3 separate regions of the Homo sapiens genome follow, and all the other regions are reported to be linked to region 1. The links are microRNA targets in miRTarBase. Many come from high-throughput screens and were not tested one by one. Region 1 holds a microRNA gene; each other region holds the end of a gene's coding sequence.

Evidence for each region. Region 1 holds the annotated microRNA hsa-miR-3145-3p (AGAUAUUUUGAGUGUUUGGAAUUG, at 4,495-4,518, shown strand). A microRNA usually pairs through its seed, bases 2 to 8, with sites in the 3' UTR of a target mRNA and lowers its output. Matches are read on the target gene's strand: a 7mer-m8 pairs with bases 2 to 8, a 7mer-A1 pairs with bases 2 to 7 and ends in A, and an 8mer does both.
Region 2: the mRNA of BCOR is a reported target of hsa-miR-3145-3p. Seed matches in the 3' UTR shown: 7mer-m8 at 9,131-9,137.
Region 3: the mRNA of RABGAP1 is a reported target of hsa-miR-3145-3p. Seed matches in the 3' UTR shown: 7mer-m8 at 7,023-7,029.

What each region holds. Positions count from the first base shown.
Region 1 is chr6:138,429,598-138,439,740 of GRCh38, reverse strand. It overlaps MIR3145 (microRNA 3145), which reads left to right and starts at 4,447; the gene lies at 4,447-4,528. NHSL1 (NHS like 1) reads left to right here. Exons shown (of 8, transcript NM_001144060.2): 6 at 6,061-9,348; 7 at 9,898-10,030. RefSeq lists enhancers at 8,556-9,055, 9,056-9,557.
Region 2 is chrX:40,042,870-40,053,012 of GRCh38, forward strand. It overlaps BCOR (BCL6 corepressor), which reads right to left. Exons shown (of 15, transcript NM_001123385.2): 15 at 8,382-9,531. The coding sequence ends at 9,240. Among named protein-coding and RNA genes, the nearest start is that of LINC03053, 39 kb to the left of the region's middle.
Region 3 is chr9:123,100,899-123,111,041 of GRCh38, reverse strand. RABGAP1 (RAB GTPase activating protein 1) reads right to left here. Exons shown (of 26, transcript NM_012197.4): 25 at 9,279-9,476; 26 at 6,176-7,951. The coding sequence ends at 7,829. It overlaps MIR600HG (MIR600 host gene), which reads left to right. Exons shown (of 1, transcript NR_026677.1): 1 at 1-1,548. It also overlaps a transcript of STRBP not described here. Among named protein-coding and RNA genes, the nearest start is that of MIR600, 5.7 kb to the left of the region's middle. RefSeq lists a silencer at 8,178-8,472.

The DNA of each region.
Region 1 (10,143 bases):
ATTACGGTCGATGACATGACCTGGATTAGAACTGGAGGTCAACTGAGACAACCGTATCTAAGAGCTAGTTTTTTTAAAACAAAAAAGATAATTAGACAAGGACTGTGGTTTTATAGATAGGCTAGTTGGAGGATTACTGGATAGAATGAGGAGTTAACATTTGTATACAGTTTTATTTAGCAAAAATATTGGATTACATATTTATTTGTTCTGTCCTTTCAGGACTTCTGGTTGATCTTGCCTTTTTTCCCAGTATTTTACACTTATAAGGACTCTGGTTTGGAAGTCTTAAACTACCAAGGTAGTATATCTAGGTAATGATTATCAAATCATACCTAGGTAATGATGATCAAAAATAGACACTTTATATTTTCTTTAAAATTAGTCTTCTTCTAGATATAAGACACACAAGGGAAGTATAACAAACAAATTAGACAAAAAAGAAAATGATGTCCCAAAGGAAAGGCATTCACTGGGAAAGATGCACCCTGTCCAAAAGATGTTGCCCAAGTTGCCAGCGGCTTTGGATTTTTAAAAAAATCTAACCAGAGAGGTACTTCCATGAATTAGAAAGGATTTATATTATCCTTAATTATATGCAGTTTTTATTTCAAAATCCACAAATAATAGACTCTGGAGACTAGCCAATATATAACACTTTAAAATCAAGGTATGATATTTAATGCTTATTTCCAAAACTTATCTGATAAACTAAAATTTGTTGCCTTTCGTTTCAGTGAATTGGACATTTTGAATTTTTTCTTTTATCTTAAATCTGTACAGAAATGTATCTGAACATCATCTTATGAGGTTTCATCTTTTAGAATCAGATAGGATTATTTTGTTGATATATATATATAACACTTGGCTACTGAACTTATCCCCATACATATTCTCTAAGCAGAAAAGGCCTCATCTAAAGGAATCCCTTTATTAATAATTTTTGGTAGTTTATACTAAGAAACTATCTACTTGACAAGACTTTTTAAAAACTCATAGCCTAATCCTTAAATAAACTAACTTGTAAATATTCAGCATCCTTAATTACATATATTTTTTAGAAATTCAAAATATTATTAATAAAAGAAAAAGTATAAATAATTATTTCTGTACATTATGTCTTAAAATCAGATAAATCCCATCAAGTTTGAGCAGCACCTAAGTGGTCTACACTTGTTTGTAGTTGTCTTTTTGTAGTTTGTTCCATCCTTTAATCTGTAAAGACATACCTCAGGGTTATTGCAGCTATAGTTCCAGACCACTACAATAAAGTGAATATTGCAATACAGCAAGTCACACGAATTTTTTGGTTTCCAGTGCCTATAAAAGTTATGTTTACACTGTGCTGTGGTCTACTAAGTTTGCAATAGCATTATGTTAAAAAAAAATGTACAGTGTAAAAATACCTGATTGCTAAAAAATACAAAGGATCATCTGAGCCTACAGACAGTTGTCATCTTTTTGCTGGTGAAGGGTCTTACCTCAAATTTGATGGCTGCTGACTGATCAGGGTGGTGGTTGCTGAAGGTAGGAATGACTGTGGCAGTTTCCTAAAATAAGACAACAGTGACATTTGCCACACTGACAGATCCTTCCTTTCTTGAAAGATTTCTCTGTAGCACGTAATACTGTTTATTAACATTTTACCGACAGTAGAACTACTTTAAAAATTTGAGTCAATCTCTCAAACCCTGCTGCTGCTTTATCAACTAAGTTCATATAATATTCTGAATCCTTTGTTGTCATTTTAACAATGTTCACAGCATCTTCACTAGTAGAGTCCATCTCAAGAAAGCATTTTCATTGCTCATCTGTAAGAAGCAATGCCTCGTTGTTCAAGTTTGATCATGAAATTGCAGCAATTCAGCCACATCTTCAGGCTCCACTTCTAACTCTAGTTCCTTGCTGTTTCTACCACATCTGGAGTCACTTCCTTCACTTCAGTCTTGATCCTCTCAAAAGTTATCTACGAGAGCTGGAATCAGTTTCTTCCAGACTCTTACTAATGTTGATATTTTGACCTTCTCCCATGAATTAAAATTGTTCTTACTGTGCTAGAGTAGTGAATCCTTTTCAGGTTTCCAACTTACTTTGCTCAGATCTATCAGAGGAATCACTATCTGTGGCAGCTTTGGCCTTACAAAATGCATTACAAAATTAAGACTTGAAAGTCAAAATTACTCTTTAAGCCATGGGCTGCAGAATGAATGTTGTGTTAACAGGCATGAAAACTTTGTACATCTTCATCAGAGCTCTGGGGTGACTAGGTGCATTGTATTTTTTTTTTTTTTTTTTGTGTGTGTGTGTGTGTGTGTGTGTGTGTGTGTATATGTGTGTATATATATATATATGTGTATATATATATGTGTATATATATATATGTGTATATATATATGTGTATATATATATATGTGTGTGTGTATATATATATATATATATATATACATTTGTGTATTTTTTTTTTTTGAGACAGAGTTTCACTCTTGTTGCCCAGGCTGGAGTGCAATGGCGCGATCTCAGCTCACTGCAACCTCCGCCTCCTGGGTTCAAGCTATTCTCCTGCCTCAGCCTCCTGAATAGCTGGGATTATAGGCATGTGCCACCACGCCTGGCTAATTTTTTTGTATTTTTAGTAGAGACAGGGTTTCTTTATGTTGTTCAGGCTGGTCTCGAACTCCTGACCTCAGGTGATCTGCCTGCCTTGGCCTCCCAAAGTGTTGGGATTACAGGTGTGAGCCACTGCCCCCTGGCCTAGGTGCACTGTAAATGAAAGAAATCTTTTTTTTTCTGAGCAGTAGATCTCAACTGTGGACTTAAAAGTATTCAGTAAATCATGCTGTAAGCTGACATGCTGTCATCCAGGCTTTGTTGTTCCATTTACAGAGCACAGGCAGACTCTATTTAGCATAATTCTTAAGGACTCCAGGATTTTCAGAATGGTAAAAGAGCATTGGCTTCAACTTAAAGTCACCAGCTACTTTGGCTGTAACAAGAGTCAATTTGTCCTTTGAAGCTTTGAAGACAGGCATTGACTCCTCCTCTTGTAGCTTTGAAAGTCCTAGATGACATCTTCCACTAGAAGGTCGTTTCATCTACATTGAAAACCTGTTGTCGAGTATAGCCACCTTCATCAATTAACCTAGCTAGATTCTCTAGATAAATTTCTGCAGCTTTTCCGTCAGCATTTGCTGCTTCACTTTTATGTTATATAAATGGCTCCTTTCCTTCAACCTCATGAAACAACCTCTGCTAGCTTCCAGCTCTTCTTCTATAGCTTCCTCACCTCTCTCAGCTTTCACAGAATTGAAGAGAGTTAGGGCCTTGATTAGGCTTTGGCTTAAGGGGAATGTTGTGGCTGGTTTGATTTTCTGTCCAGACCATTAAAACTTTCTCCATATCAGCAATAAAGCTGTTTTTTTATTTGTGTATGTTCTGGAGTAGCACTTTTCATTTCCTTCAAGAACTTTTCCTTTGCAGTCACAGCTCGGTTAACTGTTTGGCACAAGAGGCCTAGCTTTTGGCCTATCTTAGCTTTTGACATGCCTTCCTCACTAAGCTTAATCATTTCTAACTTTTGATTTAAAGTGAGAGACATGCAACTCTTCCTTTCGCTTGAACCCTTAGAGGCTATTGTAGGGTTATTAATTGACCTAATTTCATTATTGTTGTATCTCAGGGAATAGAGAAGCCCAAGAAGAGGGAGAGAAACTGGGAAACAGCTGGTCAGTGGAGCAGTCAGAACACACACAACATATATCAATTATATTTGCTATCTTATGTGGGTGTGATTTGTGGCACCCCCAAAACAATTACAATAGTAATATCAAAGATCACTGGTCACAGATCACCGTAACAGATCTAATAATAATGAAAAAGTTTGAAATATTGCAAGAATTACCAAAACGTGACACACAGACACACAGTAAGCATGTTAGAAAAATGGCATCAATAGACTTGCTCAACACAGGGTTGCCACAAACCTTCGACTTGTAAAAAAAAAAACAAAAACAAAAAAACAAAAAAAAAAACCCCAGTTATCTGCAATGCACAATAAAGCTAAGCACAGTAAAACGACGTATGCATCTATAGCATTCATCTGTTTCCTATCATATTCTGAAACTTTTTATACTGTGAAAATATTGGAGGGTCTGTTTTGGGAATAGAATTTTGGTGGTCCTTGTGATAAGATATATGAGTTTTTTCATATGCTTTTTAAGGTCTTTAGGAAATGTTTTTGTTTTAATAAGAAAGTTATACTTAGCTCTAGAGGGTGATAAAATAGCTGTATTTCTATTTTTTTTTACATGCCTAGAATGGTTTCACATTTAAAACTGCTACCCAAAAGTATCAGGATTTTGTTTATGCTACTTAAAGACAGTTAAAAATCTACCACTAACTCCATGCAAAAACTAGTACAATTTTGAAAGGAAAAAAAATGTATTTGTTTATATGAGTTCAACTCCAAACACTCAAAACTCATTGTTGAATGGAATGAGATATTTTGAGTGTTTGGAATTGAACTCGTATACACTGATACACCGATACCAGTCAACTTCCCATCTTCTAAATTACTAAATGGCAAAATTTTGCACTTCCTCAAAGTGGGTTTTTCTTCTGTCCTGCCCTTTTGCCCATTTCCCTCTCTGTGTGGGACAGCCTCGTGTGTGTGTATGTGTCTGTCTATCTGTCTTCAGTGAGTGAGTACTTGAAAGAGGGTAGAGAGAGGAAATAGATCATCTTCGCTAAAAATACAAGTATAAAAATTCCTCTCCATCATCACAGTGAAGGAGAAGGCTTTATGCTGGGATCCTTCCTTCCAGGGTGCCATCTCCTTTGAGGTTGATACAAGCACAGTGCTGCCATTTCAGTACTACCCTCTGCTATCTGAGTGAGCAAAAGGCATCCTATATCCAGTCCATGCCCTGGTTAGATTATGTGTTGGGAGAGGGAAGCCTTAGAAACCCCATCAGTCCTAGGGTCGCATCCAGGTGTCCACTGACACAGAGGGGTGTGCTTGACTCGCATTGCTCAGCAAAGCCCGTGTTGAGATAGATACTTTTGGGTCCTTGTTGGATGGAGATAACATAGGGAGAACTATAGTTTTACTACTATTTTTAGAGATTCGATTTGTCTTAAGGATTGACTTTTTTTTTTCTCAGTACACTTTGGGTAGGTTCTTGTCTTTGTGATTTTTTTTCTTTTTTCTCATAAGCTCTGTTCTTTCCTGGGTAGCTTGAAATCTAACTGTTTACACTTAAAGTTTACCTCGTCCACGTCCCTCTCTGTTGGCCCTTCCTTGTGTTTCTTTCTTTCTGTCTTTTTTTTTTTTTAACATACTATTCTCTGTTTGGTTGTAAAACTCCAACGAATAAATCATCCTAATTTGAGGAAATGTTCACTGGATCAGTTCCTGCCAGTTTCCCCAACTAGAACACAACAGATTGCTGTTGAATTTTGAATGTCACCAACAGACAGATAATGGCTTCAGATGGATAATGAAATGTTTGGAACACAGATGGGCCTGTAAATCAATTTTCTTTGCCTTAGAATTTCCTTCTGACATAAAGAATTAATGTAATTAACACTGTTTTATACCAGTACCCCTCAAATATGGTATCTCTGTGGCCCTATTGTTCAATTACTACATTCATCTACCTTTGGGAAAGATGTGTCACTGCTTGATAGATGGTCTGCACAGTCACCCAGTGGGCGAAAGGCTACCTTGAAGACTTTACTGAAAGGTGATTATTTCAAAGTAAATCCTCCTCTGAGCCCTTGGCAGCCTTGATCTTGAAGGGATACCCTGAGAATTCCATACGCAGCACTCAAGCCATAGGAGGATTGGAGGTACAAATTAAGAGAAGTACCTGACATTCATGACAATAATTTTCATTTTAGAGCTATCAGTAACTTTTTAAATGTACTTAGATACCTACAGGAGAAAGGAAATTAAATCAAATAGAAAAATTTTTTTAAAATTCTGTCAGAGGGGTGAGGGTACACGTGATGAACTATGGATTTTATTTTCAGGTAACAAGCCTCTTTCTGCTTTATCTCCAGCATCAGGCACTGGCCAAGATGATGCTGATGGCCACTCAGTGTACACCCCTGATCACTACTCTACACTAGGAAGGTTCAATAGCTGTCGGTCTGCTGGGCAGCGCTCAGAAACCAGGGACTCCAGCTGTCAGACGGAGGATGTGAAGGTCGTACCACCTTCCATGAGGAGAATCAGGGCACAGAAGGGGCAAGGCATTGCTGCCCAGATGGGCCACTTCTCAGGTTCCTCTGGCAACATGTCTGTGCTGAGCGATTCTGCAGGGATCGTATTCCCTTCCCGCCTTGACAGTGATGCTGGCTTCCATAGTCTTCCGCGTTCTGGAGCAAGGGCAAACATTCAGTCCCTTGAGCCGAGGCTGGGTGCCCTCGGCCCTGCAGGAGACATGAATGGCACTTTCCTCTACCAGAGAGGTCACCCACAAGCAGATGAAAACTTAGGCCATTTAGGAGGTGCCTCAGGGACTGGAACACTTTTGAGACCCAAATCCCAGGAGTTGAGACACTTCGAGAGTGAAAATATAATGAGCCCAGCGTGTGTGGTTTCTCCTCATGCAACCTACTCCACCAGCATCATCCCAAATGCCACACTGTCTTCCTCTTCCGAGGTCATCGCTATTCCCACTGCTCAGAGTGCGGGACAGCGGGAAAGTAAAAGTTCTGGCTCATCACATGCAAGGATAAAATCCAGAGACCACCTCATCTCCAGGCATGCTGTGAAAGGTGATCCTCAGTCTCCCGGTCGCCACTGGAATGAGGGCCATGCCACCATTCTTTCACAGGACTTAGACCCTCATTCCCCTGGTGAACCCGCACTGTTGTCCCTCTGTGACTCAGCCGTCCCTCTAAATGCTCCAGCAAATAGGGAGAATGGGTCCCAAGCTATGCCGTATAATTGTAGAAACAACCTGGCCTTCCCAGCCCACCCCCAAGATGTGGATGGCAAGAGTGAATCTAGTTATTCAGGGGGCGGAGGGCACAGCAGCTCGGAGCCCTGGGAATACAAATCCTCAGGTAATGGAAGGGCATCCCCCCTGAAGCCGCATTTAGCAACTCCTGGCTATTCCACTCCCACAAGTAACATGAGCAGCTGCAGTTTGGACCAAACGTCCAACAAAGAGGATGCTGGGTCGCTGTATTCTGAGGACCACGATGGCTACTGTGCATCTGTGCACACTGACTCTGGACATGGATCTGGGAATCTGTGCAATAGCAGTGATGGCTTTGGGAACCCCAGGCACAGCGTGATCAATGTTTTTGTTGGAAGAGCTCAGAAAAACCAAGGGGACCGGTCCAATTACCAGGATAAATCCCTATCAAGAAACATCTCTTTGAAGAAAGCAAAGAAGCCTCCCCTGCCACCCTCCCGGACAGACTCCCTCCGCAGGATTCCCAAGAAGAGCAGCCAGTGCAACGGGCAGGTGCTCAACGAGAGCCTGATCGCCACACTCCAGCACTCGCTGCAGCTGAGCCTCCCAGGCAAGAGTGGCAGCTCGCCCTCCCAGAGCCCCTGCAGTGACTTGGAAGAGCCCTGGCTGCCCCGCTCCCGGAGCCAGAGCACAGTTAGTGCTGGCAGCAGCATGACTTCCGCCACCACCCCCAATGTCTACTCCCTGTGCGGGGCCACGCCATCGCAGAGTGACACAAGCAGCGTCAAGTCAGAGTACACGGACCCCTGGGGTTATTACATTGACTACACGGGCATGCAGGAAGATCCGGGGAACCCGGCAGGGGGCTGTTCAACCAGCAGTGGGGTGCCCACTGGGAACGGGCCAGTCCGCCATGTCCAAGAAGGGTCCAGAGCCACAATGCCCCAAGTGCCCGGTGGTTCAGTCAAACCAAAGATCATGTCACCAGAGAAGTCACACAGAGTCATTTCTCCATCCAGTGGGTATTCCAGCCAGTCGAATACACCCACAGCACTCACCCCTGTGCCTGTGTTTTTAAAATCAGTGTCACCAGCAAACGGGAAGGGGAAGCCCAAGCCCAAGGTACCAGAAAGGAAGTCCTCTCTGATATCTTCAGTATCCATTTCCTCATCGTCCACTTCTCTTTCTTCTAGTACTTCTACTGAAGGAAGTGGCACTATGAAGAAGCTGGATCCAGCCGTGGGCTCTCCCCCGGCTCCTCCTCCTCCTCCTGTTCCCTCTCCTCCATTCCCTTGTCCTGCAGACAGGTCTCCTTTCCTTCCTCCCCCACCTCCTGTCACAGATTGCTCCCAGGGCTCTCCTCTGCCTCACTCTCCTGTGTTCCCCCCTCCGCCGCCAGAAGCTCTCATTCCTTTCTGCTCCCCACCTGATTGGTGCCTTTCTCCTCCCCGCCCTGCACTGAGCCCCATTCTTCCAGATTCACCTGTGTCCTTGCCATTGCCCCCACCTCTCTTACCTTCCTCGGAACCCCCACCTGCCCCACCTCTTGACCCCAAATTCATGAAAGACACCAGGCCGCCTTTCACAAATTCTGGCCAGCCAGAATCCTCCCGGGGATCCTTGAGGCCGCCTTCTACCAAGGAGGAGACCAGCAGGCCCCCCATGCCCCTGATAACCACGGAAGCATTGCAGATGGTGCAGTTGAGGCCCGTGAGAAAGAACTCAGGCGCTGAGGCGGCACAGTTGTCTGAACGAACAGCTCAGGAACAACGAACTCCAGTTGCTCCACAGTACCACTTAAAGCCATCTGCTTTCCTGAAATCCCGAAATAGCACAAATGAAATGGAGAGTGAAAGCCAGCCTGCCTCTGTGACAAGCTCGCTTCCGACGCCTGCCAAGAGCTCGAGTCAGGGTGACCATGGCAGTGCGGCTGAGCGTGGTGGCCCTGTGAGCCGCAGCCCTGGAGCTCCAAGCGCTGGGGAGGCAGAGGCTCGGCCCAGCCCCAGCACCACCCCACTCCCAGACTCTTCACCCAGCAGGAAGCCACCCCCCATTTCCAAGAAGCCCAAACTGTTCCTGGTGGTACCACCTCCGCAGAAAGATTTTGCAGTGGAGCCCGCAGAGAACGTGAGCGAAGCCCTCCGAGCTGTGCCCAGCCCCACGACGGGAGAGGAGGGCTCTGTGCACAGCAGGGAGGCAAAAGAGAGTTCTGCAGCCCAAGCTGGCTCTCATGCCACGCACCCTGGCACCTCGGTTCTTGAGGGAGGAGCTGCAGGATCCATGTCTCCCAGCAGAGTGGAAGCCAATGTCCCCATGGTTCAGCCTGATGTCTCACCAGCCCCCAAGCAGGAGGAGCCAGCCGAGAACAGTGCGGATACTGGGGGCGATGGGGAGAGCTGCCTATCTCAACAGGACGGAGCAGGTGAGTCTGGCTTCCTGGCTTCTCTCTCCTGTGCCCTCTGCCCATATGCAGCTGAACCAGATAGGGTTGTTGAATGCTCACACGTGGAAAGAACCCAGGTAGATCAGATTCCTGTTAAAGCTAGCAGTATGTAGGCTTCCTGTGTTAAAACACAGATTAAGTTACCAACTTTGCATTTTGTTATTATTTTTAAAATCTAGACCTAAAGGCATGGCAGAAAATAGGGGGATGGAGATGATCTGCAGCAGGCTGGGTATTAAATAGCAATGGGTAACACCTCCCTTCCGAAGAGCCGCGCAAAGAAACGTTGCAACAAAATTTAAGAGAGATGCCATGGGCGTTCCATACTTTAACAAAGAATGAGCTCTGGCTCTCAGGCTAGTGTCATTTCCTCCCTTCTTTGTAAACTATCAAACTACAGACCCACGGCATCTCCCTGTGGTTCTCACATTGTCGGGAATGGCAGGGAAGCAGCATATTTAGAAGCTTGGCTGAGGACTGAAATTCCAGTCACTTGTGCGTCTTGTATGCCTGCCTGCTCTTCTGTAGCTGGGGTGCCGGAGACCAACGCAGCCGGTTCATCCTCAGAGGCCTGTGACTTCCTCAAGGAAGACGGGAATGATGAGGTAATGACCCCCAGTCGACCCAGGACCACAGAAGACCTTTTTGCAGCTATTCACAGGTATTTCAAACTCCTTCCTCTGACTTTAATCTACTGTGTAATTCCTTCTTTCCAAGCAGCACCTCAATTTACTTTTCTTCCTTGAGGTTTCTTCTGTCACCCAATCATAACTC
Region 2 (10,143 bases), not on the chromosome of region 1:
CACTTCAGTCTGGGCAACACAGTGAGACTCAAAAAAAAACAGTGAAAGAACGATTTAATATACCCTTTACCTGGATTCCCCAATTATTAATATTTTTCTATGCTGTTATCTGTGTAATAATAAACATATTAATATTTTTCTGTGCTTTTCTTTTCTGAACCTTTTGGAAGTCAATGACAGACATCCTAATTCATCCTTGAACACCCTAGCATACATATCTCAAGAGTATGGACATTCTCCTACATGACCACAATGCCATTATCGTTCCTAAGAAAATGAACATTTATTCAATAATATCCTTTAATTTATATTCTTTATTTCAATTTCCCCATTGGCTCTATAGTGACAGAAACCACATCTGTGGTTGCTTGGGGTCAGGGAGGTGTTGAAAGTAAACGGCACAGGGGAACTTTCTGGGGTGACAAATGTTAGATGCTTGATTGGGAGTGGTAGTTACATGGATGTAAAATTGCCGAAACTCAGAACTGGGTGTCTTTGGTTTGATATAAATTATATCTTAATAAGATTGATTTTTACCAATTTTACCAGTAGTCCCTAAAGTGTCTGATAAGGAATTTTTACCCCGATCTAGGATTCTATCAAGGTTCATGCATTGCATTTGATCGTCTTGTTCTCCTCAATCTTCCCTAATCTAGAACATTCCCTCTTGCTTGTTTTCATGACATGGATTGAAAAAAAAAAAGGCGGAGGTGGGCGTATTGCTTGAGGTCAGGAGTTTGAGACCAGCCTGACCGACATGATGAAACCCCTTCTCTACTAAAAATACAAAAATTAGCCAGGTGTGCTTGCTTGAACCCAGGAGGCAGAGGTTGCAATGAGCCGAGATTGTGCCACTGCACTCCAGCCTGAGTAAGAGAGAGAGACTTTGTCTCGGGGAAAAAAAAAAAAAAAGCCAAGCCAGTTGTCTTGTCTTCCAGAATGTCTGTTTCCTCATTATTGGATTCAAGTTATTTTTTTTTTTTCTCTCTTTTTTTGAGACAGGGTCTCACTCTGTGGCCCAGGCTGGAGTGCAGTAATTTGATCATGGTTCACTGCAGCCTTGATCTCCTGGGCACAAAAGATCCTCCCAGCTCAGCCTCCCCAGTAGCTGATACTATGGGCATGTGTCACCATGCCCGGCTAATTTTTTCTATTTTTAGTAGAGATGAGATATCGCCATGTTGCCCAGACTGGCACATTTTTGATAAGAACACTGTAGAGGTAATGCTGGGTCCTTCTTATCAGTGCCATATGGAGCTAGTCTGTCACAGTACTGGCTAGGCTCACTCACCTTGTATGTTCTCTGCTATAGACTCTGGGTCAAGCTTTTCTGCAGGCAGCCCCTGGTTCTTGACAGCAGGAAATGGCATTTAGAAACCAAGAACTTAGTGCTAGATGTGCTCATTGCTACTAGGGTGTCAACGTTTGTTAGGCCCTTTTAGTAGACAGAGCTTGGGAATCCACATTGTATTTGCTGAACTCTTGAATTGGCAATTCGTAGCCAACATCACAAGCTTCTTTCTCCCTTCTCCACATTTCATGTTTGTATATCCCTTCTCACAGAGTGGTTCCCATTACCATATTTATCATCTCATCTATCTCACAATGCATGTAAAAGGCTTTCAGAATTACAATACAATTACTAATTACAATTACAAATACAATACAGAATTACTACAAGAGATCTGCTGAGTAAAGTTCCAAGATATCTTTGCAATTATTTTTGTCCTTGGAATATATTTCACTAAGGATGTTCAAAACTTACTTTGGCAAATTCTTTTTCTGTGTGGTAATGTTATCAACGCGATATGGTTTCATTTGTTCCTGTTTACACTCAACTTCAATATTTGCCTTTATTCATCTATTTTTATTGAATTTGGTTTCTTGAATATTTAAACATTTACATGGTTCAAATGAAAACAACTATATCAATAGGAACACACAGAGAATTCTTGTGCCGTCCCTGACCCATCTCGCCTTTGCCACTGAGGTTTCTCCCTCTTTCCAGTTTTCCTGGTGAACAAACAAGTCATCACTAGATGGTAGAGATGAGAAAGGATACACATCTAGTTTGGAGAAATATGCAAACTGTGTGCAAGCAGAGGCAAGCTCCTTTCAGAATCCACTCCCCCCTTTTTAAGTACAGACCTTTTTTAAAAGGAGAATCTAAATATTTATCTAGTGTTTACTACCTGTTGGGCATTGTGCCAGGTGCTCAACATATATGGTCTCATTTAATCCTCACAACCCTGAAAGATACGTATTGTTTTGGGTTGAATTTTTTTGAGACAGGGTCTCACTCTGTCACCCAGGCTGGAGTCTAGTGGTGCAATCATGGCTCACGGTAGCCTCAACCTTCGAGGCTTAAGTAATCCTCCTGCCTCAGCCTCCCAAGTAGCTAGGACTACAGGTGTGTGCCACCATGCCTGGATAACTTTTAAAAGTTTTTTGTTTTTTGTTTTGTTTTGTTTTGAGACACAGTTTCGCTCTTATCACCCAGGGTGGAGTGCAATGGCATGATCTCAGCTCACTGCAACCTTCGCCTCCTGGGTTCAAGTGATTCTCCCACCTCAGCCTCCTGAATAGCTGGGATTACAGGCACCCACCACCACGCCAGGCTAATTTTTGTATGTAGAGATGGGGTTTCACAATGTTGGGCAGGCTGGTCTCGAACTCCTGACCTCAAGTGATCCGCCAGCCACAGCCTCCCAAAGTGCTGGGATTACAGGCGTGAGCCACCCTGCCCGGCCAACCTTTAAAGTTTTTATAGAGATGGGGTCTCCCCAGGTTGCCCAGGCTGAGATGCTCTCTTTCAAAAAATAACTTATTGTAGAAAATTTCAAACACACACAAAAATAGAGAGAAGTGCACAATTCAGAGACCTCCATGTACCCATTTCCTGCTTCAAAAATTACCTACTGATGGCCCGGCCAGGTGCGGTGGCTCACGTCTGTAATCCCAGCACTTTGGGAGGCCAAGGCAGGCAGATCACAAGGTCAGGAGATCGGGACCATCCTGGCTAATGCGGTGAAACCCCACCTCTACTATAAATACAAAAAATTAGCCGAGTGTGGTGGCAGGCACCTGTAGTCCCAGCTACTTGGGAGGCTGAGGCAGGAGAATGGCGTGAACCCAGGAGGCGGAGCTTGCAGTGAGCCAAGATTGCGCCACTGCACTCCAGCCTGGGTGACAGAGAGACTCCGTCTCAAAAAAAAAAAAAATAAATAAAAATAATTACCTACTCATGGGGCTTGTTTCATCTACATCTCCATCTTCTCCTCCCACTGGGATGATTTTGAGGCAAATCCCAGATATCATATACATAAAGATTTCAGCACACATTGCCAAAAGATTTGGAATAAAAAAAAAAAAAGTTCTGGGCCAGGCTTAGTGGCTCACGTCTGTAATCCCAGGCCAAGGCGGGAGGATTGCTTGAGCCCAGGAGTTCAAGATGAGCCTGGCCAACACAAAGAGACCCTATCTCTACAAATAAAAAAAATTAGTTGGTTGTGGTGGTGCACGCCTGTGGTCCCAGCTACTTGGGAGGCTTAGGTGGGGGAATTGCTGGAAACCAGGCAGTAGAGGCTGCAGTGAGCTGTGATTGCACAACTGCACTCCAGTCTCCGTGACAGAGCAACACCACATTTTAAAATTATATATATAAATATATATATATATATGTATATATATATATATATATATATATGTATATATATATATATATATATATGTATATATATATATATATATGTTCAGCATTCCTATTTCCCTGGTTTTTACAAATTTTGCAATTTTTTTTTCTTTTTTATAGTTTGTTCAAATCAGACTCACAGATCCATGCTTTACATTTGCTGGTATTTCTCTTGTCTCTTTTAGTCTAGAGGTTTCCTCCTCTGTTTTTTTTCCCCTTGCAAGTTATTTGTTAAATAAACTGAGCCATGTGTCTTTTTTTTTTTGAGATGGGTTTTTGCTCTTGTTGCCCAGGCTGGAGTACAGTGGTGTGATCTCGGCTCACTGCAACCTCCACTTCCCTGGTTCAAGCAATTCTCCTGCCTCAGCCTCCCGAGTAGCTGAGATTACAGGCGCCCGCCACCATGCCTGGCTAATTTTATTTTTATTTTTTTGTATTTTTAATAGAGACGGGGTTTCACCATGTTGATCAGGCTGGTCTTGAACTCCTGACCTCAGGTGATCCACCCACCTCAGCCTCCCAAAGTGCTGGGATTACAGGCCTGAGCCACCGTGCCCAGCCCCATGTGTCTTATAGAGTCTCACAGTTTGGCTTTTGCTGAATGCATACCCATAGTGTCCTAACGTGTTTCTCTGCCCCTTGTATTTCTTGTAAACTGGTAAGTAGACTTAGACCTACATTGTCCAGTGTGGTAGCCAGTAGCCACATGTGGCTACTGAGCACTTGGCAATGTGGCCAGTTCAAGCTGAAAAGTGCTGCAAATGTAAAATACACATTGGAGTTTCTAAAGTCTTGGTATAAAAAACAAAAGTGTCTCGTTAATGATTTCTGTATTGATTGCATGTCAAAATGGTAATACTTCGGATATACGGAGTTAAACAACATATGTTATAAAACTTACTTTTGGCCGGGCACTGTGGCTCATGGCCTATAATCCCAGCACTTTGGAAGGCTTAATTTTTTTGACACAACCCCACTGGCTTCTTGTATATATCTATACTCCCTTCCAATTCTTCCCTGCCCCAAACTGGAATCAACCATTTCTCAAATAAAGCTCAGTTGTTTTTAATGAGGAAAGGTATTTAGAAACCATAGGCTGGGAGCTATGGTGCTCATTTCTATCAGTCATTGTTTCCAGGCTTTTTGAGAGGACAGAGCTAGGAAACAAACTTTCCTAAGATAAAATATTAATACATCATGAGTTCATAGTGATACTTACAATTCATGTTCAGGGCTGGATAATTTATCTAACCTTGCCAATTCTATATTTTCATCTCCTTTCTCTCATGTTGAAGTCCCAGTTCTCAATACCAACATTTCCTTTTGTTTTATCTCACGACACAAACAGGACAGACTCAGAATAACAATACTGACACTACCAAAGATAAGATTACTGAAAACAACTATAAAAATGTTTTCAGGCCAGGTGTGGTGGCTCACTCCTGTAATCCCAGCACTTTGGGAGGCCAAGGTGGGTGGATCGCTTCAGCTCAGGAGAACAGCCTGGCCAACACAGCAAGTCTCCCATCTCTCCAAAAAAACAAAATAATTACCCCAGAATGGTGGTGCTTGTCTGTAGTCCCAGCTATTCAGGAGGGTGAGGCAGGAGGATTGCTTGAGCCTGGGGAGTTGAGGCGGTGGTGAGCCATGATTGTACCACTGCACTCCAGCTTGGGCAAGAGCGAGACGAGACCCTGTCTCAAAAAAATAAATAGGCCAGGCATGGTAGCTCACGCCTGTAATCCTGGCACTTTGGGAGGCTGAGGCTGGGTGGATCACCTGAGACCAGGAGTTCAGGACTAGCCTGGCCAACATGGTAAAACCCTGTCTCTACTAAAAACATAAAAATTAGCTGGGCATGGTGGCGGGTGCCTATAATTCCAGCTACTTGGGAGGCTGAGGCAGGAGAATTGCCTGAACCCAGGAGGCAGAGGTTGCAGTGGGCAGAGGTTGCAGTGAGCAGAGGTTGTACCACTGCACTCCAAGTCTGGGCAACAGAGCAAGACTGTCTCAAAAAATAATAATAATAAATAATAAAATAAAATAATAATAATTGGAAGACCACTCTAAAGCAAGTTAGGGAACTATTCCTCAATTCTTTTTCCAGTTGCATAGTATTCCACTGTGTGGGTGTACCATTGTTAACTCGACCAGTGCCCAACTGATGGAGATTTGGGTGTTTTGCTATTACATCAATTAACGTAAATGGCAGGTAGGGTAGGGCTGGTATGGTGGCTTGGTTCCAGGAGATTCTCAAAGACCCATGCTCCTTCAAACTTGTCCAGCAGTGCTCGACTTCGATACTTCATGGTCCAAGGTGGTTGTGACAGCTATAGCTAGAGCAGCCACATTCTAGCCAGGAAGAGGGAGGACAGGGCAAAGGAAAGCATGTCCTGATCCTAAGGGACACCTTCAGAATTGGAATGAACCACTTCTGCTGTCTACCCGTGGTGAGCTCCACTGCACTCATGTTGACCTTCATGGAAACTCTTCTATGTTGCTGGTGGGTTCCTGGACACCCAAATGAGGGCCTATAAAGGTCTGCTCTGTACCTCTGGTGAGCTCTTCTAAACCCATGGTGTTTCTATACGGCCAATACGATCTCATCTATGCCTGTGGTGTCTTCTACACCCACTCCCTTCCCCCCAGGAGGAGTTCTACTGGAATGGGCACTCTACCTGCAGTGGGATCTCACTTACACCTGTGTTAACATCTTTGCCTGTGGAGAGCTCTTCAACGCCCGAGGTGACCTTAGATCATGATTGCTCCAAACCTGTGGTGAGCACTTGAACACCCATGCTGAGTTCCTCTCAACACACAATAAGCTCCCCTACCTTCTGGTGACGCGTCCCTCTCCCTGTGGAGTGTGATCTGGCCCATACCTGTGGCCCACTCTATGTTCATGGTGAGCTCTATTACCCATGGGGAGTTCCTGAGCAGGGGTGGGGCATTGCTCTACATCCAAACCTTTCTCAGCCATGGGGATCTCATCTATACCCCCAGTCAGTTCTACGTCCATGTTTCCAACCACCCTGACAGTTCTTGCACTAACTGTTCTGACTACTAGCTCCTCCAACTGCATGAACCACAGCCTTAAATGTCTCCTGCACCAAGCTGCTTCTTCTGCACACCCTAACCTTGTGGCTCTCACCTGTTTTCCTAGCTTAATTAACAGAATGACCTTCATCCAAGATAAAAATCTCAGTTGGCCTTGGGCTCCCCCTTTGCCTCCAACCCCAATACAAAGAGCCGGATGCCCTTAAGTTTTTATTATTTTTTAAATCTGGGTGTGTAGGATCTCTCGTAGCTTTGATGGTAGTTCAGCTTCACCAGTCCTCTTCTGCTTAAATCATTTCTACAGGTCTGTTTTACTGGTCTTGTCGTCTGTTTTTTTCCCTTCAACACTCCCCCTAGCTATTTGAGGGGACTTCCTGTAAAACAAAAACTAAGTAAACTGTTAATAGTGGTTAACATGGGTGGGGGAGGGGAGGGGATAATAGGAAACGTGTCTATTTCTGACATGATTGGGTTTTTTAAATAAGGTATACATTTTCTAATATCAGAAAAATTAGTAAATAAGATGGTAGGCTGCCTTTTGTCTTCAAGATACACTCCAAACTTCATTCGTAGCCAACCTTCCCCCAAAAAGGGCTCTTGCATTCCTCACATGGAATTTCTTCATTCCCAACAATGCCTCACTTTTCCTTTTTTTTCTTCCACAGTGTTTGCTGGCCTGACAAATACAGTGTCCCCACAGCCTCTTTCCTCTGCTTTCGCAGTCCTAGTGTTCCATGCAGGATCAGAAAGCACTGAGGGCATTCGGTGCACAAATGGATTTGACACAAGGACCCAGATGAATAAGGTCTTTGGAAGGGCTGGGGGAACAGGAGTCAGGGACAACTCTGGATCCACAGGGTTCACGAACAATCTGCTGAGGCTGTCATCCAAGAATTAGAAAGCTGCCACTGCCACAACCACTACTGTATCTCATCACCCACCAAGCTGAAAACCAGACACTGGAATGCTGGTCAGTCATTCCAACTGGCTGGCATTCTCTTCAAATTTTCCTATCCGCAGCCACTATAGTAGGAAGGTGCCCCTACCTCATGCTGCCCTCCAAACAGAATATGCACTCAGAAAGCTAGCTGCAAGGGAGTCAAGTAGTTTTCAGCTTTCTAGCCTCTATAGTGAAGGACAGGCACAAAAGCAAGTGAGATGGAAATCAAGGGCCAACTGATAGTGCCCAGTGCAGATACTGCTGGGAAAAGTCAAGAACAGAGGAAAGGCTGGCTCTACAGGCCTTGACTCTCAGGCCATGCAACAGAAGGGCTGCAGAAGTGACATAACAAATGCCTAGCTTCAGAAAAAACACTCCTAGAGAGTTGGCCATGACGTGGGACTGAAATAGGTCAAGGCCAAAGGCAGTGCAAAAGCCTCCATAAGCATCAAAGGAGACAGGAAAGAGAAGGTTCTAAGAGACAGGAAATATGTCCAAGAATTGGGCTTTCAGAATAGGACTCCAAATTATATTCTGAGTATAACTCCTCCAAAATCCTCCAGTCTGCTTTGGTTTCCAGAGACTATAAATTGCTCTAAAGTTATCTATAGGGAATACATCACCAGCACCATTTAAGAAGAATCAGGGACAACAATAATGCTTTAGGAATACATGGGACACAAGGTACTTCAATTTTCTCCTTTCCTCAACAGTTTTATTGCCTTTTAAGAAAATTTTTGTAAAATATAAATACAAAGGCAGAGAATTTACTTACAAAGTTAAAACACAGATTTCAAACATAAACACACGATTCAGAAAATTTTAGTTTTATGTACATTTCCAAGCAACCTCAACATATTATGTTAGTTTTCAATATTTTACAGGGTACAGAAAAAAATAGCTCAAAGTCTTCTTTAAATAAGAGCATAAAATGTTTAAACATATAAACAATCCGGTTTGATGCGTGAAAACTAATTTCACAGCTTTTAAATTAGGATATAAAAGTTTCATACAATTAGTTGTTGTGTGTGGATATGGTTTGAATTTATATTACACACTACTGGATTACATCCAATAGCATTTACCTGGCCCGAGCAGGTACTCTGTAAACAAAACAAAGTTATATCACCAAGTGCCTTCCCCGAATTCGCTCCCTCAAACCAACCACACAGTTCTGACCACTCTACAGTCATGGCCTGTCATCAGAGCTTTGTATGAAATTAAGTCAAAGTGTGGAGCTCCTTTTACTCATTTTTTTTTCTCCTTAAAAAAGAAAAGAAACAAATGTTCCAAGTAAAAACAAACGTATCCCAAAGCATGTGTGCATTGAAAAGTAAAGAAACATTATAACAACTTCATAAAAACTGACTTAAAAGTTTAAAAGGAAAAAAACATGTTTCTAAGTCCTTCTGACTGGAGTAATTTCTCTTATATAAAGAAGAGATATTTTCATATGTAATAGTGTCCTTTCTTTACAGAAATAGTTGTATTATGACACATATGCACAAGGATTAACACTATAACACACTGTACATGGTGGGTCCAGCTTGCTCACCAGTAGTTGTCTGAGGCCAGATCACTGGGGTGGAGCCACTCTACAGAGGAGCCCAGCAGAGTCTGAATTTCGTTCGTGAATTCCACCAGATCTAACAGCTCCTTACTTTCAGGGTTGAAGGCTTCCAGGTCTTTGGAGCAAGAGAACAAGAGACTTGCAGAAACCTGCCGATAAAATTCTGCCTCTGCAATGGTGACAATTTCCACGTTTGGAAAATTGCAGCGAAATATGCGGGAGGACATTTTCAATTTCTTAAGGACATCCGAAAGCAGTAGCCAGTTTCGTGGCCTACAAAACAGAAAGGAAAATGCTTTGAGTTTCCAGTAAAATGAAAAGTGCGCCCAACTATTAATATTAACTACCAACCCAAGTGGACCAGCCTCTATGTCCTTTCATTCTGCTCCCACCCCTCATTTCTCACCATACCTACTCTCTGATCACCATTTTTTTTTTTTTTTTTTTTTTTTTTGGAGACGGAATCTCGCTCTGTCGCCCAGGCTGGAGTGCAGTGGCGCGATCTCAGCTCACTGCAAGTTCCACCTCCCAGGTTCACGCCATTCTCCCGCCTCAGCCTCCCGAGTAGCTGGGACTACAGGGGCCCGCCACCATGCCCGGCTACTTTTTAGTATTTTTAGTAGAGATGGGGTTTCACCATGTTAACCAGGATGGTCTCAATCTCCTGACCTCGTGATCCGCCCGCCTTGGCCTCCCAAAGTGCTGGGATTACGGATGTGAGCCACCGTGCCCGGCCATCGCCATTCCTTTCTAAGGTGAGGCAGAGTAACTACTTCTAGCAGTAGGAACTCTGGACTCATCTGTCCATCTAGGGAGGACCATCTGAATAAGCCCCATTTCTCCCCTTTCTGGGGGTAAAGTCCTGCTCATTCAGCTGTGACCACA
Region 3 (10,143 bases), not on the chromosome of region 1:
GACAGCGGGCCAGAGGCCGCTGCCATTAGACGCATCCCTCTACTTACCCCCGATCACTTTTCATGGTCAGGCCGGCCTTGCACAAGCAGGTTCTGTTCACTGCGCACCCCCATTTCTTAGATGGGGTACTGAGCACTGCTTTTCCCTTAGCTCACTTCATGTGGCAGCTTCTCAGGGATGGGACCTACCATGGCTGTGGGAGATGCTTTGCTACTACTTACTACCTTTCCGAGGGAGGAGGGCTCATTTTTAGAAATGTTACTGGGGAGCCAAATTGTAGGCCTCCGACCAGAGGGCCTCGCTCTCTCCATCTCCCAGGAACCAAGGGTAGCTCTGGCTCTCTGAGGAGCTGTCTCCAGCCTCCAGGTGGACGTCCTTTCCAGCATACCAGGGCTTATGGAGGCAAAATGAAAGCTGGTCCACGTGGGAACTCCCTACTGTTGTCCTTTCCTTGGGCAGACACCATATACTTTTTAGCTCCTAGCAGTGTTTATCCCGTTTTCCCCAAAGCATCCTTGGACTCAGGCCTTTCATCCTGGACCCATCTGTCTGGCCTGTTGTGCTGAGCCTTTGGTCTAAGTGGTTGGTTGGTCCCAGCCACTTCTTCAAAAGAAGGTTTCCTGAGGTAACCATAAATTAGGGCAATCGTACTTCCAGGAACAGTGAGGCTGATGGGCCTGTTCCCAAGGGTACTTTGGCAGGGGGTGCTGGGGAAGGGGCTGGCCTAGGGCCAGGTTCATCATACCGTTAGCCCTGCAGCCCCATGCCTGTGTGTCCTGGTTTACCCGCCGTGTAGTGGTCCTGCAGGAGTGGAGCCTGTAGGACTTGCTTCTCAGCGGCTCCAAGCAGAACTCTGTCTGGGAAGGTGGGAGGTGCAGCCAGTCTAGACCTGAAGCCCTCACACTAAGGACTAAGGTAGGCCTGCTCAGCCTTAGCCCTTCGTCAGGCCCAAGGGTGGGGGAGGCAGGAGGAGGCTGAGCGTAGTCGTGGATAGAAACCTTTCCCTACCGCACGGTTACACACATGGCATGGGACTCCTGGCTGTAGCTCACTCGGGTCTACTGAAGACCAAGTTGGTTTTTAGAAATCTATTTAAAATATCTATCATGTATCTATTTACTGTGTTTTTCTGAATACGCAAGTGTAAATAGTATAATTTGCAGTGCAAAATCCTTGGCAATAACTTTGTGTATTATGTTTAAAAACACTGGAAACCGTGACCACCATGGACTGCCCTTCCCCTCTGAGGCAATTATTACATGTAGGACTCTGAACTTTAAACCTTCAGCGTGACTGAAGCAGCAGCCTGCACATGTGGATGGTCATCAGTGCCTCGCCCAGAGATACCTGGCCTTCATCCAAAGGGACCCTGCTGCCACAAGTCCTCCAGGCAGCACCCGCACTGTGGCTCCTTCGCACTGAGTATGTTGGACTCTGCCATAGACTGACCCTCTTGTCTGGCTGCTGCAGTTTGTCTGTAATGCCCTGACATGTTGCATTCTCCCCATTTGGATAAATAAAAACAAACAAATGCTTCTGTCACACACAGTAATGGATTGTTCTGTGCAAGACCCACTGATAAAATGAAGGATACAGCTTTGGTGAAAGGTTCAAGTGCAGGCTCCCTTTTCCTGGCCCTTAAGGCTCTAGTTCAGTACATGTTACAGGTTCTTCCCTTCATGCAAAGGGATGGAGGGGCCGAGGATGTTTGAAGGGGGGTGGATGGCTCCTGATAATGGACAGTGATTTGGGTGGGGCCAGGGCCTAATTCATGATCCCGTTATGGTCCTTAAAACCCTGCCTCTCTGTGGTGTGAAGTTTCCTCAACATGAAACATGAACCTGGCACCCTGGCACAGTGAGTGGTAAGTGATGTCATGTTGAGTGAGTGCTGACCTCTTAATCGTCACACCTGTTCGCGGGGTCAGTAATACCCAGACAGACAATACAGATCGGAAACCGAGGCTCAGGGTTAAAGGACCCTGCCCAATGGTGTCGAGCTTCTAGAGGGCGGCAGCAATTGGAACCCAAAGCTAAGGCTCTTCTTCCTGCTGCCTGCTTTTCTGCAAGGCTTCTGCAGTTGAGCTGCCCTAGTAACTGAGAGCTCAAGACCACAATGTAGTCCCAGTCCACTTGGAAGGACGAGGATGAAGAAGGTCCGGTAGCCCAGGGAAGTGTCCTGGTGGGGAATCGGGCCAGGGGCTGCTGCTGCTGCTGCTGCCTCCAGGTAAGTGGAGAGTTGTGTGGGCAATGGCGCCGGCTGTGTTTGCCTCACTTTAGAACTCAGGGCCCCGCCTTCTCCCTATACATCATCAGGCTGGATCTACGACGACGCAAGAATTGACTGAAAGAAAGAAGAGCCGCCCGGGCCAGCTCTCTGCTGTTCCCATCCTCATTCCCAGGTTGGCCTTTCTGAGATTGAGGGACGGCTAGGCTTTCTTGTTCACAATTGCCACAGGCCTCAGCTGCACAGGAGACAGGTTGTTGAGGTGGAACTGGGAGAGGGGGAGGGAGGGAGCATTGTCTTTCTTGCTCTTGGGCCCTGGAAGAGAAGGTGAAGGTGGTGGTATGTGGTAGGAAAACTAACTCCCCGATGGTGTGGTCACAGGCAGACTTTTCACCTTCACTTTCAAATTTGGGAATAACATCACTGAACTCAGGGGTGTTCTGATGACTGGAGGGAGAAGAATACAGGAAAAGAGCCAAGGGCGTCACAGGAGAACCCAGCAGCCCTGACGAGCCAGGCACCAGACCCACTGCACAGATCAGAACTCAGGAAGGTTAAGTGAAATGTACGTCCAAGGGTATGGCCTGGCCTTGAACCCTGAGTTTCTGTGTGTGTTGCTTGCAGTACAATGCTGTGACGGTTTACACCTACCTGCTTCCACACGGTCATCTTTAAGCAGCCACCCTGCTGGTTACTGACAGAAGTACGAGTCAACATCCCAGCCGTCTCTCTGAGCCCATCTCTCTTCACCTATCAATCAATCAATCAAATGTGGAGGGCAGAGAACTCAGCACTCATGTCTGTTGTTCTGGGAGTGCCTCAGTGCCCATTCTGGGCGGCTCCAGTCCTCATATCTGCCTGCTCCAGCGTTCCTGTTCTTTCATCACCCCCCAAATGAATCTTAGAAGAGGATTTAAATCCCAATGTCAGAATCAGGCATGTCTCTGAGCGGTGAAGTGACTCTCCAAGGCCACAAGGGGCCCATGTCACCCATTGCGCTCCCCTCTGCATGGGCTCTGGTTTTCACAACTGATGGGTCAGCTCAAACATGGGAGTTGTGTTCTGGGCTTATTCGGGTAGCCGGTGGCTCTCTTCTTCACCCCCCTCACTACTCAGCCCCTGCCCCTGGGACTTGACTTGGAATTCAGAAGAGGTGCAGACACTTTGGGGCTGATAGCTCCTGCCATTCGGTCTGAGCCGCTGCCTCCCCACTGAGAATTATCAAGGCCCTGGAAATCAGCTTGGTTTGCAGCAGGGCCTGCCAAAGAAGGTCCACTCAGCCTGTGCTGCATGCTTGCCGACCTCGTGAGCAGGAGACAACAGGTGCCCAAGGTTGGAACCACAGTCTGAGTGGCCCAGCACAACTGCTCTTCCTGCCACAGTCCCCTCTGACCACTGGCCTTGCTTGCCCACTTCCCTCACAGCCAGGCTTCTTAAAATCTATACTTGCTTGTCTCTGCCTCCTGCCCTCCCATCATCTCAACTGTAGTGGCCACTGCCCTAACAACCTTCCAGCTCCCAAATCCAATGAAGCTTTTCCAGTCCTGCCCTCATCCCCACCCCAAGGTAGCTCTTGCTCCTCTCTGGCCGTCTATGCTCCATTCTCCATGTCTTCTCTCCTGCTCCTTGAATGGCGGCTCCTAGCCCTTGTTTAAGCTGTACATTATCTAGGCAGTCTCTCCAGGCTCCTAGCTTCAGCTTGCTCGAGCAATGGTTCTCAATCAATCAAGGGTGATTTGGCCCCCTCAGGGAATATTCGGCAATACCTGAAGACGTTTTTGGTTGTGCCACTTGGCGTGGGGTAATGCACTAGCATCCAGTGGATAGAGGCCAGGGATGCTGCTGGGATTACACAGGACAGACCCCCTACAGCACAAAAGTATCAATCAGCCAAATCATCAACAATGAGGTCCAGAAACCCTGCGCTAGAGATGCCAAACCAACAACTGAGCAGCTGTAGATTGCCAGCATCTCCAACCTGCAAGTCCCAGACTATTTCAAATCTATACCCCGACAGCTAAATTTATCATCTTCCTGGTGTGTCGTCACTCTCCCTAAATTTCACTGACTCCGTTCTCCATTCCTTATTCTATCATCTGTCACCTCTGCTCACACCCTTAATTTCTTCTCCTCCCGATTTTTCTTCCTAAAGGATCAGCAGGGAACCACTCAAAGTGCAAGTTAGCTTAACCCATTTATGCCTAGTGTTCCATTATTGGAACGCTAAGCTTGTGGGAGTTATTTATATCCTACTGCTTAAGGTCATCGCCAAGGTCTGATTTTTCACACAAAAAAATTTGTAACCTCTGGCATAAATGGGTTAAAACTCTCCAGTGACTCCTTATCAGCTCCAAACTCCCTGGCATGGCCGCAACCTAATTACCCAGTTTCATCTCTCATCACCCCACCTCAAGCCGACTTTACTACTATTCTTCCCACCTAAATGCCGCTGTCCTCTTGCTGCTCCTCTGCCTAGCTAGCAAGTCCCTTAGTTGTCAGTCACAACTGTCACTACCACTTTGTCCCTCCTGCATTTATACATAACCTTCCCACAGGATCCCATGCACCTGTACACGACTTACCATACGGTGTCACATTATTCTCAGTCTCAGCCTCAACATAACCAGGGGACCTCCCCAAAAGCAGAACCCTCATCCGAGTCGTTTGAGGCCTGTGTGCCAAGACTAAATAGTATATGGACTCCTTTTCTTGGGCCAGTACGCAGCTACAGGGATGAGGATTCTGCTGAGTCCCTGCCCTACTGAACACAGAAGCCATGGGACAGGAAAAGCATGGAGCAGGCTGATCCAGAATGTGGATCCCAGAAACATGTCCTCCAGCCTGCAGCCTGTGAGCATCAAAGGGACCTAGCTGTGCTCTGGAGCCACAGTCCTGGCTTCTGCAAGAGTACCTGCCAGGGGCTGAGCCCTATGCTAGGAACTTTCCTAGTTTCGTTGCAGTGGAGAAAGACAGACAGACAGGGCAGGGGCCCACCTGCTCTCTGTCTAATCTGTATCTCTATCCCTATCTATCTATCTATCTATCTATCTATCTATCTATATCTATCGATCTATCATCTATCTATCCATCTTATCTATCTCATCTATCTATTATTTTATCTATCATCTACTTTATCTATCTAATCTACATTTATCTGTCTGTCTGTCCATCCAGCCATCCATCCAGTCATCCTTCTTGCAGGCATGAAGCTATGGTCTGTTCAGCCTGCATCCATTTAAAGGCTAGGCATAGGTGGGGTCCTAGAGGGCAGGTCAAGCGGGAAGGGGGAACCGTAAGATTAGGGAAGCTTCGTTCTTCTTCCTGCTATGGAGAAGGGGGTTGAGGTGGTGAAGAGGGGCAGCAGAAGGCCTGGGAGCCTCATCTGTATGGTGCAGGGATGTGGAGGACAGGCGATAGGAAGAAAGAGGCTCTGAAAAGATGATGACAACTCCATGTCACTGCTTTTAAAGCTTTTAGCAGACCACAGCCGGCCCCCAGGTGCTCAGCCTGCCTTTCTACTCTTCAGCTGTTTCCCCTGCACATGCACACTTTGGCCCTGGAATTCCCTCTTCCATCTCTGCCTGGTGAGATGCTTTTGCCTTTGAAGGTCTAATTTGACCCTTACCTCCTGTAAGGCTTCCTTAAGCCTCAAAAACACCAAGTGTCCCTCATCCCTGCTACTACAGCATGTTATTTCTCAGAGGGGCAATGTTCATCATAAACAAACACAGAGGCATCAACGTCGTCATCTTGCCCCATGTGGCCTGCCACACCCTACCACTCCATACGTCTCAACAGGTGGGTGAGGGGCTGCCTCGCGCTCACACATGCCTCTCTTACAGCACACACAGTGGTCTTCTCTGACTGCTTCTGTGCGCAGGGGATGAGGGAAGAAGGGGAGGCGACAGGAGTAGGTGATGACAAAACTGGTTTTTACAAAGCAATGCTGTTTGTTTGTACCAAAATATTTAATCAATATGCTGTTAAAATAAAACCAACAAAAGAAACAGTAATACAATTTTACTGGTTTATATTTCAATTCATAAAGTTGACACACTGAAACTACCTTAGCACAATGTCCACACACCTAGCATTAGATAGGCTTACAGCTATTTTGGTAACTGAACAAGAAAGACACAGAAAGCAGCAAAGGGGATGGTTGGTGGGGAGGGGGTTGCCACTTGTTACCTCCCTTATTACAGATAACCTCAGCAAGCGTTAGTACAGCCAATAAGAAAAAGAGCTACAAAACAACCCGAGTGTCTTTATATACAAAACCAGTGCCTCTTGTAAGCAGCCGCCTCAACACTGAACGCAGAAAAGAGGACAAAACCATCTGCGTGTCAGCCTGTCAGCATATCACTATATAAATTAAAAGTCAAAGTTTTTTTTTTTTTTAAAGGTGCTAAAATCCATTCCATAGCTTTGAAGTGAGAACTTACAGCCCATCTGAACAGTGAGGTTTGTACCCAGGCATACTCTGAGGAGGGCCCAAAGGCCCAGCCCATCTGGGAGGGACAGGCCCGGAGGATGGAGACCTCGCAGCATGTGCACCCTGCGCAGACATTTACAGACACGCAACTCAGTCTTTCTCACTTGGACAACCTGTTGTGCAAAAACACTAGGAATCTTGAAGTGAGGGAGCTCTGTCCACAGCTCCCGTAATGGCAGGGAGGAGAGCAGAGCCCAATGAACCTTGAGTGAAATTAAGTGCTCGAATAACCACATAATTAAATTGTGCAGATCAGCAGTCCTAGTCTGGAATTTAAACACTGTCAACGGGGCATATTGGGAAAGATATTTATATATATATATACATACACACACACACACACACACACACACACACACAAACACATTAAGCAAAATAAGATTTGTCCATGTTATAATCCAGTCTCACAGTCAAGTCACCCACCCCAGCCTTTTGAAGTCATTTGGCAGCTAATGCTAAAAAGTAACAGGAACTATGAGAGTTGCATAGAATTGATCAGAAACATGAATAATGCCAAACCCAAAACCTGCACCATACAGTTTAACAGAACCAGGTGGCTTCAGATGCAACTATGAAACCCTCCTATTTAAAACAAAGTGCTTCTCCATGTCTACCTGGGGGACCTTCTGCTGGCATTGAAGCAGAAAAGAATTATTTGAATTTCTGATCCCTTGCCCCACCCCCACTATATATATATATATATATATATATATATATATATATATATATATATATGTATATTAAAAAAAAAAGGTTTAGAAAAAAAATCAACAGACTGAAGGATCCCCTAACTCTGATCATGTAAACTCAGCCTTTAGGCTGGGTGAGGTGTTGACGTACACGGGGAAGAGGCCTGGGAGGTCACACTGAGGAGTGATTTCTAGAGTGTCCAGAGCGTCGGCTGAGCTAGCAGGCCTGTTAGTATCAGTAGTCTTACCCCAGAGGTTGCCTGCTTCACAAGCTCTGGTCCAGTGACCTACCAACATGCGTCTATGGATCTGACTTAGGTACATTCTGGTCCTGGGACAAGTCACAGAATCACACATCTGGCCAAAGAAGGCAACAAAAGGTGTCGTGTTTTCTGAAGGTGTCGGGAGGCGGCAGCTGCTCTCAGCAAGTCTCTTTCCCTTGAACCCCGGTTGCTGTCTTTATGGAGCTCAGTGTTCGGTTAAACCACGTCTTCTTGGCTGCCTGCACCTCATTGAGGGCAAGCCCTAAATGGTGTTCCAAGTCCTGCAAGAGGAACAGTGTGCATGAGGATGCTGGGCTTGGTGTCAATGACACTGGCTCCCCAGAGGAGAACCAAGACAAGAATGCAGTCTATTTACTCTGGAGAGGCCTCGGGGAATTCCCCCAGTCTCCAACTGGCATAGAAATGCCTGAAATGCCTAAAGATTTGGGAGCTTTTAGTTAAGATCTAATTTCTTGCCTGGTCTATTTATTAAAACAGTCTTCTACTTGCTATGTCTCCCTCTTCTGTCCACCTAATGCACACCAGGCAGACAGGTAATGCTCTATTTCTGGTGACATCATTTCATTTTGGCAAAAATCTTTAAACTCCCTAGCATGGCATTTGAAATGCTTCGCAATCTGGATCCACACACTCTCTTCCAGCCTTAGCACCACCTCCATCCCCTACTGCAAGGAAAGAACTCCTGAGGGTCCTTCCTGGGCAGCCACTCTCCTCCTTGTGCTGCTGAACATGCCACTCCCTCTGCCTGGAATTGCCACTGTTCTCTCTCTCCTGTAGCTACAAGCCCTGTGCATTCTTTGATCACAGCACAGCTACTGCTGCCTTGGTGATGCCTTTCCTGATTATTCCGGGTAGTCACACTACCAGGCCTTAGCTTTGCAGTCCCAGACCTATAACAGGGCCTGCCAAAGAGCAGATGCCCAGTGAATGTGTGCCATGAGGGAGAATCAGCCCTAAAGCTTTTATCCTGAACTTGTTCCCTCCATAAACAGTGCTTAGGGTTTAGTGGTGCTGGTGGACCTAGCAATGTGTATTAAGATGACCAAAACAAGCCCTAACTTCTTTATCAGGAAAGGAGGCTCAGATAGGTAGTATATTAACAGTCACAAAGCTAGTTAAGTGGTGGGAACTGGAAGAACAAAAGCTTGCATTTATAAAGCCCCCGACATTCTGCCAAGCCATTTGTGCACACTATCTTACTTAGTCCTCAAACCAACCTATCAGATAGGGACTCTCATCATTTCCATTTGTAGATAAGGAACCTGAGATGTAGGGAGGTTACTAACCCAAGGTCAAACAGTTCAGTGGTAGAGCTGTGTTTCTAAAGCACTGTCTTCTCATCCCATCAAAAGATTCCAAGCTTTTGTGTATTATTCTCAATATGACAGCGGAAATCCTCAAGACAGGCCAAATACTGATGAGACATCCACTGGCCAGTAACAAGTCCTATATTTCTTCTCATGACAACTGTGACCAAAGTTTAAAAGGTGTGGAAAAACCCCAAACCATAAAGATAATTTCTGGGGTCTCTAGTGCACATCAGGAAACCCAGCCCGCAGGCACATGTCTGAGCTCTGCTGCTGTTACCTGTATCTTACACTCGGCCTCCACCAGCTGGAGTTTGGTCTGTGCCAGTTCTAGCTCCATTTCTCTCAGCTGGTTCTTGAGCGTCTCTTTCTCTTCATCCGTGTCCTCATCTAAAACCTCCTTGGTTGAGCTTATGCCTTTTACACGCCCTTCTTTGTTGAAAAATTCCCGGCACCGCTCACAGTCATCCACTTTTTGCTGAAATTGAATGTTAGATGTGAAGAGGCAAAGAAGAGGAACTGGCCCTTTAGGATGGTGTGAGCATCTCCTTTGGGGGACACCAAGAGACGGCTTCTCTGTTGAGCACTACAGTTTCTGAAAACCTGTGCTCTTTGTAAACTGGCAGATAACCTACTGGAAAAGCCACTTGGTATTATACACCAAAAATAATAAAATTATCATTGTCTTGATTCAGTAATCTCACTTCTAGGAACCCAGGCTGAAAAATGAAGCTGTAACTAGATAAAAATTTATGTACAAAAATTTTCACTGTAGAACTGGAGACAGGCAAAAAAGCAGGGGATAAACTATTCAAAAACAATTAAATATTAAATATACTGTGCTATATTTATACAAGGAAGTACACAGCCTCTAAAAGGTTTTTGAGGAACTTTTATAACATTGGAAAATGGATGCATGCTGGTTGAAATAGAACACAAAAATGTACATAAACTATGATTACAAATAAAATGTATTCCACATTTCATCAAAATAAGATGCCATTAACTGTAAGAAATGTCATTTTATGTTCCTCTAAGAAAACATTCTGCCAATTAAACCACAAAAAGCCAATTATAAAACATCCGACTTTCAGAGATGTAAATGTGAAAAGAAATGCTTATCTCAGAATGAATGAAATTTTAGA